Regions from separate parts of the Homo sapiens genome. Here region 1 is linked to region 2. The links come from fine-mapping of genetic effects on gene expression. A gene starts in region 2. The other region holds a variant in brackets. All regions are shown on one strand. Distances are between the middles of the regions.

What was found.
Region 1: its variant is fine-mapped to the expression of RNASEH2B-AS1 in whole blood (TOPMed, PIP above 0.99).

Annotation. Positions count from the first base shown.
Region 1 is chr13:50,887,037-50,892,285 of GRCh38, reverse strand. RNASEH2B-AS1 (RNASEH2B antisense RNA 1) reads left to right here. Exons shown (of 3, transcript NR_046552.1): 2 at 2,551-2,677. Among named protein-coding and RNA genes, the nearest start is that of RNASEH2B, 20 kb to the left of the region's middle. The variant A/G (reference allele first, on the strand shown) is at 2,421.
Region 2 is chr13:50,908,003-50,913,503 of GRCh38, reverse strand. RNASEH2B-AS1 (RNASEH2B antisense RNA 1) reads left to right here and starts at 2,792. Exons shown (of 3, transcript NR_046552.1): 1 at 2,792-3,021. It overlaps RNASEH2B (ribonuclease H2 subunit B), which reads right to left and starts at 3,713. Exons shown (of 11, transcript NM_024570.4): 1 at 3,364-3,713. The coding sequence starts at 3,427. RefSeq lists silencers at 2,959-3,008, 3,219-3,458, 3,469-3,898.

The DNA.
Region 1 (5,249 bases), 21 kb after region 2:
TGTGCACAGCAGTGAAGATGCTAGGAGATTACAGGCAGATATTTTGCAAATAATCTCTTCTAAAGTTATTGATTCATATAAGTGGAATATAAGATTTACGTTAATCCTATTCCTTAAATCAGAAATGTCTAATGTTATACTGTTTTATGCAGTGGGTAATTTACATTAAGAAAAAGGATTTTAAAAAAAACTAATAGGAAAGCTTGTGGATCATCCCACCCCACCCCACTTTTTTTCTGGTCACCCCTGGCTGGTCACCTCAACCTTCTGCTTTCTTATGCTGCCATTTGCACCAAGCATGACATTATATCAGCTCTCTCTTTCTCTTTGTTCAGAACAAAATCCTTTTTATAGCAAAGTGGAGAAAATTCTCGATGCCATGAATGCTGAATGAGACTTAAATACAAAGGCCCTGCAATCACATTTCACCCCATAATTAATTATGTAATTATAAAGCTTTGTCAAGCCATTGTATTCCCCCTCAAATATATTTTAAAGAATTTTAAAGCTTTTGTTTCTACACCCCTGACAATAATGATAAAACACCCTTACCTCTCCCATTTCCACGTGTCTATCACCTTTTTAATAATACTCTTGAGAAAAACATGAGATCACTGGTATTAAAGTAGAAAGGTCTTGCAGCTTTTTTTCTAGTTACTTAGATTTGTGGAGCTCTAATTTGATTGTGGGCATCCTTTATAAGGCTTGTTCCACCTTCTCCTGTGGAGCTATACCAGCTGTGACTCCTGTTTTAAGAGCTATGTTCTCTTCTCTGTTGCAGACCTATGTTATATCTGCCTTAGTGCATGGGCTGCTGGTCAATGCTAACAGCTGGCTCTCAGGGAAAAAAGAAAAACCATCTGTGGCATCTGCCAATTTCTGTGGTGTAAATACTCTGAGCTCTGCCAATTTCAAGCCATCCATCTGACATTGCTGAACCCAAAGTTGGCAAGGGATGTGCACAATTGCCTTTTGCAAGCAAGTAAGAGCTGTCTTGGGGATTATTAAGCTACTCAAGAAGCATCTGCCTACTGGCACCCACTGCTTTTTTAATGTACTCTGGGAGGAGAGGGCATATAAAATAGTGTTCTTGGCTTAAGGGGTTTACAGTCTAGCCAGAGAGAAAGAGCCCAAAGCAATGACCAGAGAAAGCAGAGTGCAACAGTGATCCACAAACTCCACTGAAGGGATTCAGAGCAAAGCCCTCAAGAAAGGCACTTTAGCAAAGAAAGTGTGTTTAAAGGATGCAGAGGGTTTCATGACATGGAGGAAAAGGGAAAACGCATTCCAGGCAAGGGAAGGCTGGAAGGTTGGAATAGGCATGGAGTGTTCTTAGAAAAGACAAAACAGAATCTCAGACTGTCTGATGACCCAAACGGGAAATTTTTGGTACTATGACAGAATATTCACTTCCCTCTTTACCAGGTACTTTTACACACGTTTCTTTTGATCCTTCCTATAACTGTAGGAGATTGGTAAAATACAATAGGTGTTATTATTACTATTATTATATTCACTTAGCAAAAAAGTATACTTAGAAAAGTCAGAAAACTAAGGGAAGTTAAGGGCCCTTGTGGACCCCTTTAAGCCAGACCCAGAATGCTCTCTCCCCAGCTTATCGTACCCCAGTGTTATTGCACCGCAGTCTGCTCTGAGGACCCTCATTAGGCAGTCCTCCCATACAGTAGCCTCTCAAACTGCAAGACTTTTCATTGCATGAGCAAGATCCATTTTTCCTTGCAACGAAACTGAAGAACTGCCTCAATGGCTTTACAAAGAAAAGCAAAGTCTATTTCTTTTTTAATGTCTGTCCTGAAAAGGACTTTGGGGGCATGGTGCAGTGGAAAAGTCACTGAGCTGGGTATCAGAAGAGCTAGATTCAGGTTTGGGATCTGATTCAGGTTTGGGATGTGATGGAGAGCTGTGTGATATTAGGCAGATGGCTTAACACTTCTGGGTTTCCGTATGTCATACAGGAACTGATGAGTTTACTTGCATGGCCTCAAATGTTCCTTTTATCTATGAAAGGCAGCACTTCTAGATATACTAAATTGCCAGTCTAGAACTATATCATTACATGGGCCTCCAGAGAATCCGGGGAGCCTAGAGGAGTTGAGTGTGTTGAAGGTTGAAGCACAATTACCTTAAAAAATAATGTAATTGAAGTTCTTGGATATTACTTCCTGAAGATGGCCAAGATGGCTTTTTTTTTTTTTTTTTTTTTTGCCTGGGCTAGAATGCAGTGACATGAACACGGCTCACTGCAGCCTCAACCTCCCAGGCTCAAGCAATCTTTCCACCTCACCCTCCTGAGTAGCTAGGACTATAGGCATGTGCCACCACACCCAGCTAATTTTTTCTTTAAATTTTTTTGTAGAGAGAGGGTCTCCCTATGTTGCCCAGGCTCAAGATGGCCTTCT[A/G]ATGGAGCCAATATCTATCTATTCATTCAACATATTGCAAATAAACTTTGGAAATAAACCAGTTATATGAAATAAAGAAGTAAATAAATTATTAAATAAATGGCCTTACTTTATTCTGTCTCCTCTGCAGGCTTCTGCAAAAGACTTGAGACAGCTCACAATGAAGTACTCTGTATTAGGCAGGGTAATATTGATTGCAAGTGACAGAAACCCAATCAGAAACTCACTGGAGTCATGAGGAACACTTATTGGCTCAGGTAACCTAACCCTTGAATGGGCAGGGATGTATCTGGTTTGGGAGGAAATAGTACCAGGTGCTGAAAGTAGCTGTCTCAGACTCTGGTCTGTCTTTCTGTGTCACATTCTTTCACACCTTGGAGGTTGTGGTCATCTGGCTTATCACTGGTCAAGAAGATGCCTCCTTCATTAGTTCCTTGATTTCAATTTGAAATAATGCTGGTCAAAGACTCTGGCCTTCAGCAAAGACCATGGCAATGGTCTGAGAGTGGCAGAAGGCAGAGGTTGACTGCATTACTAAAACGACAAGGTTGGAGTTGGGACAGGTGGGGAGAAGGGTTTATCTAAAAGAAGGTGCTGCTGCTATCAGAAGAGGGAGTGTTTGGGCTGGGGGGACAAAATAAAATATGTCCACAACAGATACATCAATAGAATCATTAAATAAAGCTGGATGGGATGGAAATGAGCAGGGTTCGTTGTGTAAGAGAACCTAAATTAATTATGGTAGCTTCAGTTTAGCTCTCACGTATGTGAAAGTCAAGGTAACATAGAGAAACAGATCATTTATAAACAAAAGGAAGCAATCATTTTCCTATGTGTAAACTCTACTATGATACTTAAATAGGTTTACAGGAGTCATTCAGTGGACAACATCTTCCATAGTGATTTTCAAAAAAGATGCAAACAATTTTTATTCTGTCATATCTTATATCAAAAATTATATTTAGAGCATATTACCTCATATTTCTTTTAGGTCTTCATGGTGTATTTAGGATGATAAATAAGGTGTATCTGGGGAGATAAATCCAGGTATATAGCTTTCAGATGATCAAACCTATTAGCATAACATCCAATTAATGGACTATTAATGATACCATATTTTTATCAATGTGTAAAGGTTATGTTTGCTCCCATTTTGAACTTTTTGTTCAGTGTAGATGACTGGAATGATCATGTTATGTGACGCTGTGTTGAAGAGAGTCACTGAGAAAGAGGTAATGTCAAGTAACAGGGAAAGTAAGAAATGACTGGAACACACTGGGACTTTGCCATAAACATAAGAGACAGGCAGTCAGAACAGTAAAGAATTGTACTCAAGTTGTTTGAGTACAAACTGTTTGACACTGTGACACTGTGATAGGGAAACCAAATAGTGTATTCATTGGCAATGTCTTTTATGGATACCAGGAGATATTGTTAGTCAGCTGTAGTGCAATTATTGTTGATTGGTATATTCTTAATTCACTGAATCCTTTGAATTGTGCTACTCCAAGTTCTAGTAAATACTAGAAAGTATTTACTACTCAAGTATTCTAGTAAACACTAGAAAGCATCCAGCATATTCCAAAAGACCGAGAGTCGTTGACTTAGTAGACAATGAAAATTGTTACCTTAATTGAACTAACTTCAAACTGTATGTGCTGTATCTCTGGGGGCAGAGGAGAGAAGAGTGACTCCATCACAGTCAGGTAGTTCCAAATGTATCTGTTGTGCATATTTGACTTGTCCATAATTGCCTTTTAAAAGAAATTGTCTTTAACCCAAAACAAAACACCTTGAAAATCAGTCTTAGACTGTTGCTTTTAATTTTCTAATATCTCTTAGTATTCCTAGACTTTCAAAATTGTTCTATTAAGGAAATTCTCAAACATCCAAAAGTAGAAAGACAGTATAATGAACCCCATTGACACAATATTCAAATTCAACAATTTTTAACATTTTTCTTGGTTTTTAAAAAATATTTCACATAACTGATCCAAAGGAATTTTTTTACACATAATGTCGCCATAGAATGTTAGACTCTTTTTATTAAAAAAAAAAAACTGATTATAAATATTTGCACATTTATAAGAGGAGTTTTCAGGAATTTGACAGGGCACACCTAGAACCACCGGGGTGGTGCTCAGGACCCACCAGGTACACCAAGGACCCACCAAGCACAGGTCCAGCCCCAGTTGTCCATCTTGCTTTATCTATTATTCACCTTTTTTGATGTCATATTGTTTTATCCATAATTAAGTCAGTAGTATATAAATCGAACAGATGAGCATTTTTAAAAACCACAAACCCACCATTCCATTATCATACCTGACAAAATTAACATTAATTCTATTATTTCACCTATTACGCAGTCCGTGTTCAAATGTCCCCAATTTTCTCAAATATATTTTACAGTCCTGTTGAAATCACAGAGTAAAGTCCACAAATTGCATTTGGTTGAAATGTCTCTTAGGTATTTTCTAATCTATGAAAGTTCCCACTTCCCCATTTTTAGCCGTTTTTTTGTTTGTTGAAGACATTGGTTCATTTGTCCTGTAGAACTTCCGGCATGCCAGATTTTGCTGATCGCATTCTCATTCAACCCATTAATCTAATAACTTGTTCCTTTGTATTTTTCATGAGCTTGCTGCCTGAGTGTGAAGCTTGCTTAGATTCAGATGCATTTATTTTGGCAAATACTCCATAGGTACTATCGCGTGTTTCCGATTGCATTCCATCAGGCGGCACATGAGGTCTCGTGGTCCCATTTTTAGTACTGTTAACACTGATCAAGGGTTAAGTGTTGTCATCTAATCTACCCTTTCACTAGTG
Region 2 (5,501 bases):
TCTTTTTTTTTTTTTCAATACACAATGTTAGGGTTTCCCAATTAACATTTCCTTGGAGATGAACCCAATTAATTGTTCAGCCCCCAACAGCAATAAATGCAGTCTTCTAAACGCAATGAATCAGGTGACCTCTCACACCTGGGTACATCCCAACTTAGTAGCATTAACAAGAAAAATGGACTTAAGAAAAACATTAAAAATATGACTCAAACATTTACTTTTAGGGCAGAAAAAGAGGGATGGAAACTTATACTACTTTCCAAAAAGTAAAGTAATGGCCTCTTATAGAAATTAAAACTGCAAACAGGCTAGTATTCCCAGGCCATTTTACAGAAACATTTAAGACCATCCCAAACTAAAAGAAATGCTTGCCTTGCTGAAATGGGAAATGGTTCTGTCTTCACCAGCCTATGAAAACCAACGTCCCAAGTCTGCATATCTCACAGTATCTCTTCCAAGTTCCAGATTTGTTTATCTGAGATAGCCAGCTTCTCCAAACAAACTGAAAACTAGAGGCAAAGATACCTAAATCAAACATTTAAATATATCCTTCAAGATATAACACAGTGCTGTGGCAGGCAACTCGATGAACAGCATGAATTAAATGTTGGAAAAAAGTATCATTGCAAGGTTAGGCATCTTTACCCTTGTCTCACGGATAAATCCCTTTAAAGTTCTGTTGGCCTGTGGGTTCATGTGCTCACTTTTCAGTACACAAAGTAAGTTCTTCAGATCCCAAGTTTTCTAAAACCGAATACAAGCCGCCTCCGCCAAATACTTTTGAAAAATGTTTAATAATCTTTGTTTTCTTTATTAAGGGCCCAGCTTTACTGGAGTATGGTGCTCCCTCAGCCAAGGGCATATCGTTTCCAACTCCCGAATGGGTAACTAAGCAGGCTGATTTCTCATCTTCTGGAAAAGACGACAACTACATCTGGGAAGATGAGCCTCACACTCTGCACTTACATGCACTTCCTTGACCATATAAATTCTGGCCCACCACAAAGAGGGCCAAACATGAGGCTTGTCATTCTTATATCCCAATCTAGTTCCCAAAGTCTTTACTGCAGTGGTTCCTGGGGTGGGGGCAGTGGTTTCCGGACCAGCAGCATCAGTATCTCTTGGGAACTTGTTACCAATGCACATTCTCTGGCCCCAGCCCAGGACCTACTGAACCAGCACCTCTGGGAACTGAGGCCCAGCTCCCCAGGTAAATGATGCCCTCAAGTTTGAGAACTAGTGTTGCACTGCAGTCGCTGTCAAACCTTGTTGTACCCTCAGAGCCTGCAGGTGGCGCTAAAGGCCAGAAGGAAGAATTGCAGGAGCTGGTAGCTCAAGTTTTTAACTGTTAAGAGTTCCTGCCCCCCTGACCACACAGCTCTTTCTAGCAGTTCCAACAGCTGCTCAGCCTCCCCCAATGCCTTAAAAGGTCACAGTAGATCTCAGCTCTGAACAGAAACTCAACTGAAACTCTTCCCACAACCCAGCAGTAGATATATTAAAACCTACAATTTTCAGGGATACAATCAATATTTAATTCTTTTGAGGGTTTTGTGTTTAATACAAGGACACAAACACACGTATAAAATGACGATGTCAATACTGATTAAACAGAACAACAAAATAAGAAGCTCAAATTATCATCAGCTATTGTGTATATCTGAAATAACAATAATGCACTTGATTCTGAAAGAATGATTAGAGTTCCTACTCTGAAAATCTAATTGTCTTGATGTGACGAAGTGAGAAGAAAGGATGATTTTTCTAATGAAAAGCATGTATACGGGTAGCCCTTTGCGAGATTCTGTCAAAACCCTGAATTTTGCATTAGCTGTTTTACCACCCAAACGTTTTTACCGAGGATGTGCAGCAATGGGAACTCTCATACACTGCTTGTGGGAATATAAATCAGTATAACCACTTTGGAAAACCATTTAACATTGTCAACTACAGCTCTACACACAAGTACTAGAACCAGCCATTCCACTCCAGGGTATACACCCTAGAGATATGAGTGCCCATGTCTACCAAAAGCCGCCTAAAGGAATGCTCTGAGAAGTGTAACTTGTAATAGTTGCAAACTGGAAACAACCCAAATGTCCATCCACAGTAGAGATACATAGTATGGATACTCATACAATTAAACAGAAGCAGCAATGAAAAAACTAACCAACCAACCAAACAACTGCTACAACATGAATGAATTTCACAACAAGGATGAATCTTTCAGAGTGAAAGAAGCCAGACACAAAGGGTACACTCTTATTCAAACAGGCAAAACTAATCTCTGGTGACAGAGGTCAGCATAGAGGTTCCTGGGGCTATCTAGGAACAGGCATGAGGCGTTATTGGAAACAGTCTACATCTTGAACTGGGGGATGGTTACTAGGGTGGTGTATACGTATGAAAAGTTCAGTGAGTTGCATACTTAAAATCCGTACACTTTATGTATGTTTTATTTTTAGAGGCAAAAAATATTATTGACAGCCTGTCATGTAAACATTTTCAATAACCATCATAAAACTCTAAATTCCTGGGAAAGAATATTGTTATCAGAGTATATTTACTGCCACAAACACTGCATTTGCTGAGCTAAAGTCAAAACTTAATACAGGGAACAGGAGATGTTCCTTTTTTCCAATGTTACATATATAAAAAGACCAAACCTTTCTGGCTTGCACTCCCTAGGCCAAATTCCTTTAACTGTGTCATTTAATCGGTCCTTCCTTGTGTGGCACTGGCTGTCCACTGTCCCAAGCCCTCGCATGTCCTGGATGGCCGGTCATCATCCACACGGGGGCTGAAAGGCCCGGCTCCAGCACTCCTGTGGTCATCATCCTGCTGAATCGCTTTGAACTACCCTTGGCCTAACCGCGACTCCCATCCCGCTTCCCTCCTGCCTCGCCACTGCAGGCCTGTCCCTTTGCTTTCTTAAAACTGCGCACCGTCTGAGGCCACTTCGAGCCTACTGGATCCCTGGTTCCAACCCAGTAGGATCACAGAAGCAGGGCCAGCTGCCAGGTAGGGGACACCAAGGGCAGAAACCTCCGGGGCCCGCAGCGCACCGGTGACCGCGAACCCGCGTGGCTCCCCTCAGGCTGAGTCGGCTTCCACCCTCCCACCCGAGCCACCGGGGATCAGGGCCCGGGAAACACGCTCGGTCCTTTTCGGCGCTTCCGGGTTTGAAAACCGCGGCTTGCTATGACGTGTGACCAAAATGCGGGGCCAGCTGTCCCAGAGAGAATCCCATCCCGCGCCGGGCCGGGTAGTGGGAGCCACCGGGGTGGGGGGCGGCGCGCCCGGGGTCGCGGGCCGCTCCGCCAGTTCTTGGGCCGACCCCGCCGCCCGGGCGCGCGTGTTTACCTGAAACCAGGAACACGTGCTGCCGGGCGCCAACCCCGTCCCCGCAGTCCACGCCAGCGGCCATGCCGCCCGCCTCTTCCGGGGCGCCGCAGGCTCAGCGCCGCGGGCCTCAGTCTCCCAGCCCCGCCGAAAATGGCGGGAGAAGGGTCTGTTCCGGGTGGCGCGGCGCGCTGAGGGACCGGCAGCGCCCGGGAGGAGGCCCAGGGACCGAATTTCGTTTCGTTTCCGAGACCAGCCTGCTGCTCGTGTTACGTTTTTAAATTTAGCGCCAGGCGAGGGGCTCTGAATGCCGGCCGGTGGCCGCAGGCAACGGGAAGGGGCCGCGGCCTCTCCCTCGCGGCTCCGCTAGTGGTAGGTGCTCATCGCGCGCCGCAGGGCGCCGAGTGACGCGGAGCGGGGCGGGGTCGCCGGGGCCCCGCGCTCTGTGGCTGCACCCAGCGGCCCTCCATGGTCTAGCCAGCGGGCTAGGATTGGGTCTGCGGGGTGTGTGCCCGGACAACGGGTGACGCCCGCCACACCCCCGGGGCCGGGGGACTCACCTGGAGCTAGTCCGTGTTAAGGACAATAGCAGTCACATCGGAATCCGAATGCAACTCTTAGCCATGGTCCTCAATTATTTGTGAATATATATTGGTCATCAGTTGCATTCTGTGTTGCTATTGATGTGAGAATATGTGTGCATTGTGAGCTACAAGGGATGTCCTCAATTTGGACTCCGTCCTCATCACTAAAAGAGGTGCACAGTTTTGGGCTCAGAATATGAATTTGTTGTTTTGGAGAACGCTGTATACTGAGTTAAAAACTTAGACATTTATTTAAAAAGTGATGTTTAAAAAGTTAGAGCCATGAAATTTGGGGATTTAAACTTTTAAAAATAACATTTTAATTGAAAAGTGTTGTTTGGTACATGGTTTTTAAGAAGAAAGTACATATTCCTTTCATACTTTAGAGAAAAGCACGGGCCAGGCGCAGTGGCTCAGGCCTGTAATCCCAGCACTTTGGGAGGCCGAGGCGGGCGGATCGCCTGAGGTCAGGAGCTGGAGACCAGCCTGACCAACAAGGTGAAACTCCGTCTCTACTGAAAATACAAAAATTAGCTGGGTGTGGTGGTGCACATCTGTAATCCCAGCTACTACGGAGGCTGAGGCACAAGAATCACTTGAACCCAGGAGATGGAGGTTGCAGTGAACCGAGATCCCACCACTGCACTCTGGCCTGGGCTACAGAGCTGGACTCTGTCAAAAAAAACAAAAACAAAAAAATCCACAAAAACCTATTTTTTTTTTTTTTAAAGAAAAGCATGATGTATCTCTTTTATCCCAGATCCCAGGGGTAACTGTTAACATTTCTTCTCTATTCTTGCAGAATTTTTCCATGCAAAAACAAGTTAATGTCTTATTTTTGCACAATTGAAAGAATAATATACATAACTCATGCACTTTGCTTTTCATGTTTAATCTTGAAGATAGTTAAATTTAGCAGCACTAAATTTATCTCGGCCCTCTGAAAAGGTTTTTAACTTCAAACCTGTTTCCCATGGGGTGAGACCAATACAGCTGCAGTTGATTGCAGGACACAGCTGGTGGAGAAGAGGCCTTTCTGGCTGAGGAAAGGCGCCTCTTGCCAGTTTTGGGGCAAGGAGCAGCAGATTGGTACTGCTCTGATCTTCCCTCTCCCCCAAAACGACTGTAGAAGATGCTGTGGTGTATAGCACAAATCCCCAGGCACACCATCGTCTTACTAACAGCTACAGGAGCACCCCATTATTCCTGTAGGATGGGATCCAAAACCCCCAGTGAAGGCCTAAAACCGCAAATAGTACCAAACCCTAATATACTGTTTTTTCCTTTGCATGTATATCTGTGATAAAGTTTAATTTGAAAATTAGGCCCAGTAAGAGATGAACAACAATAATAATAAAATAGAACAATTCTCACAGTATGCCAGCATCACTACTCTTGCAGCTACTAAGTGACTCATAAGGAGGGGACCTTCTGCAGTGTGGATCCGCTGGACAAAGGTAGAATTCAGGTCCTTTGCAGGACGAAGCTGGATGGTGCAAGATTTCTTCACACCACTCAGAACACTGTACAATTTAAAACTTACGAATTGTTTCTGGAATTTTTCGTGTAATATTT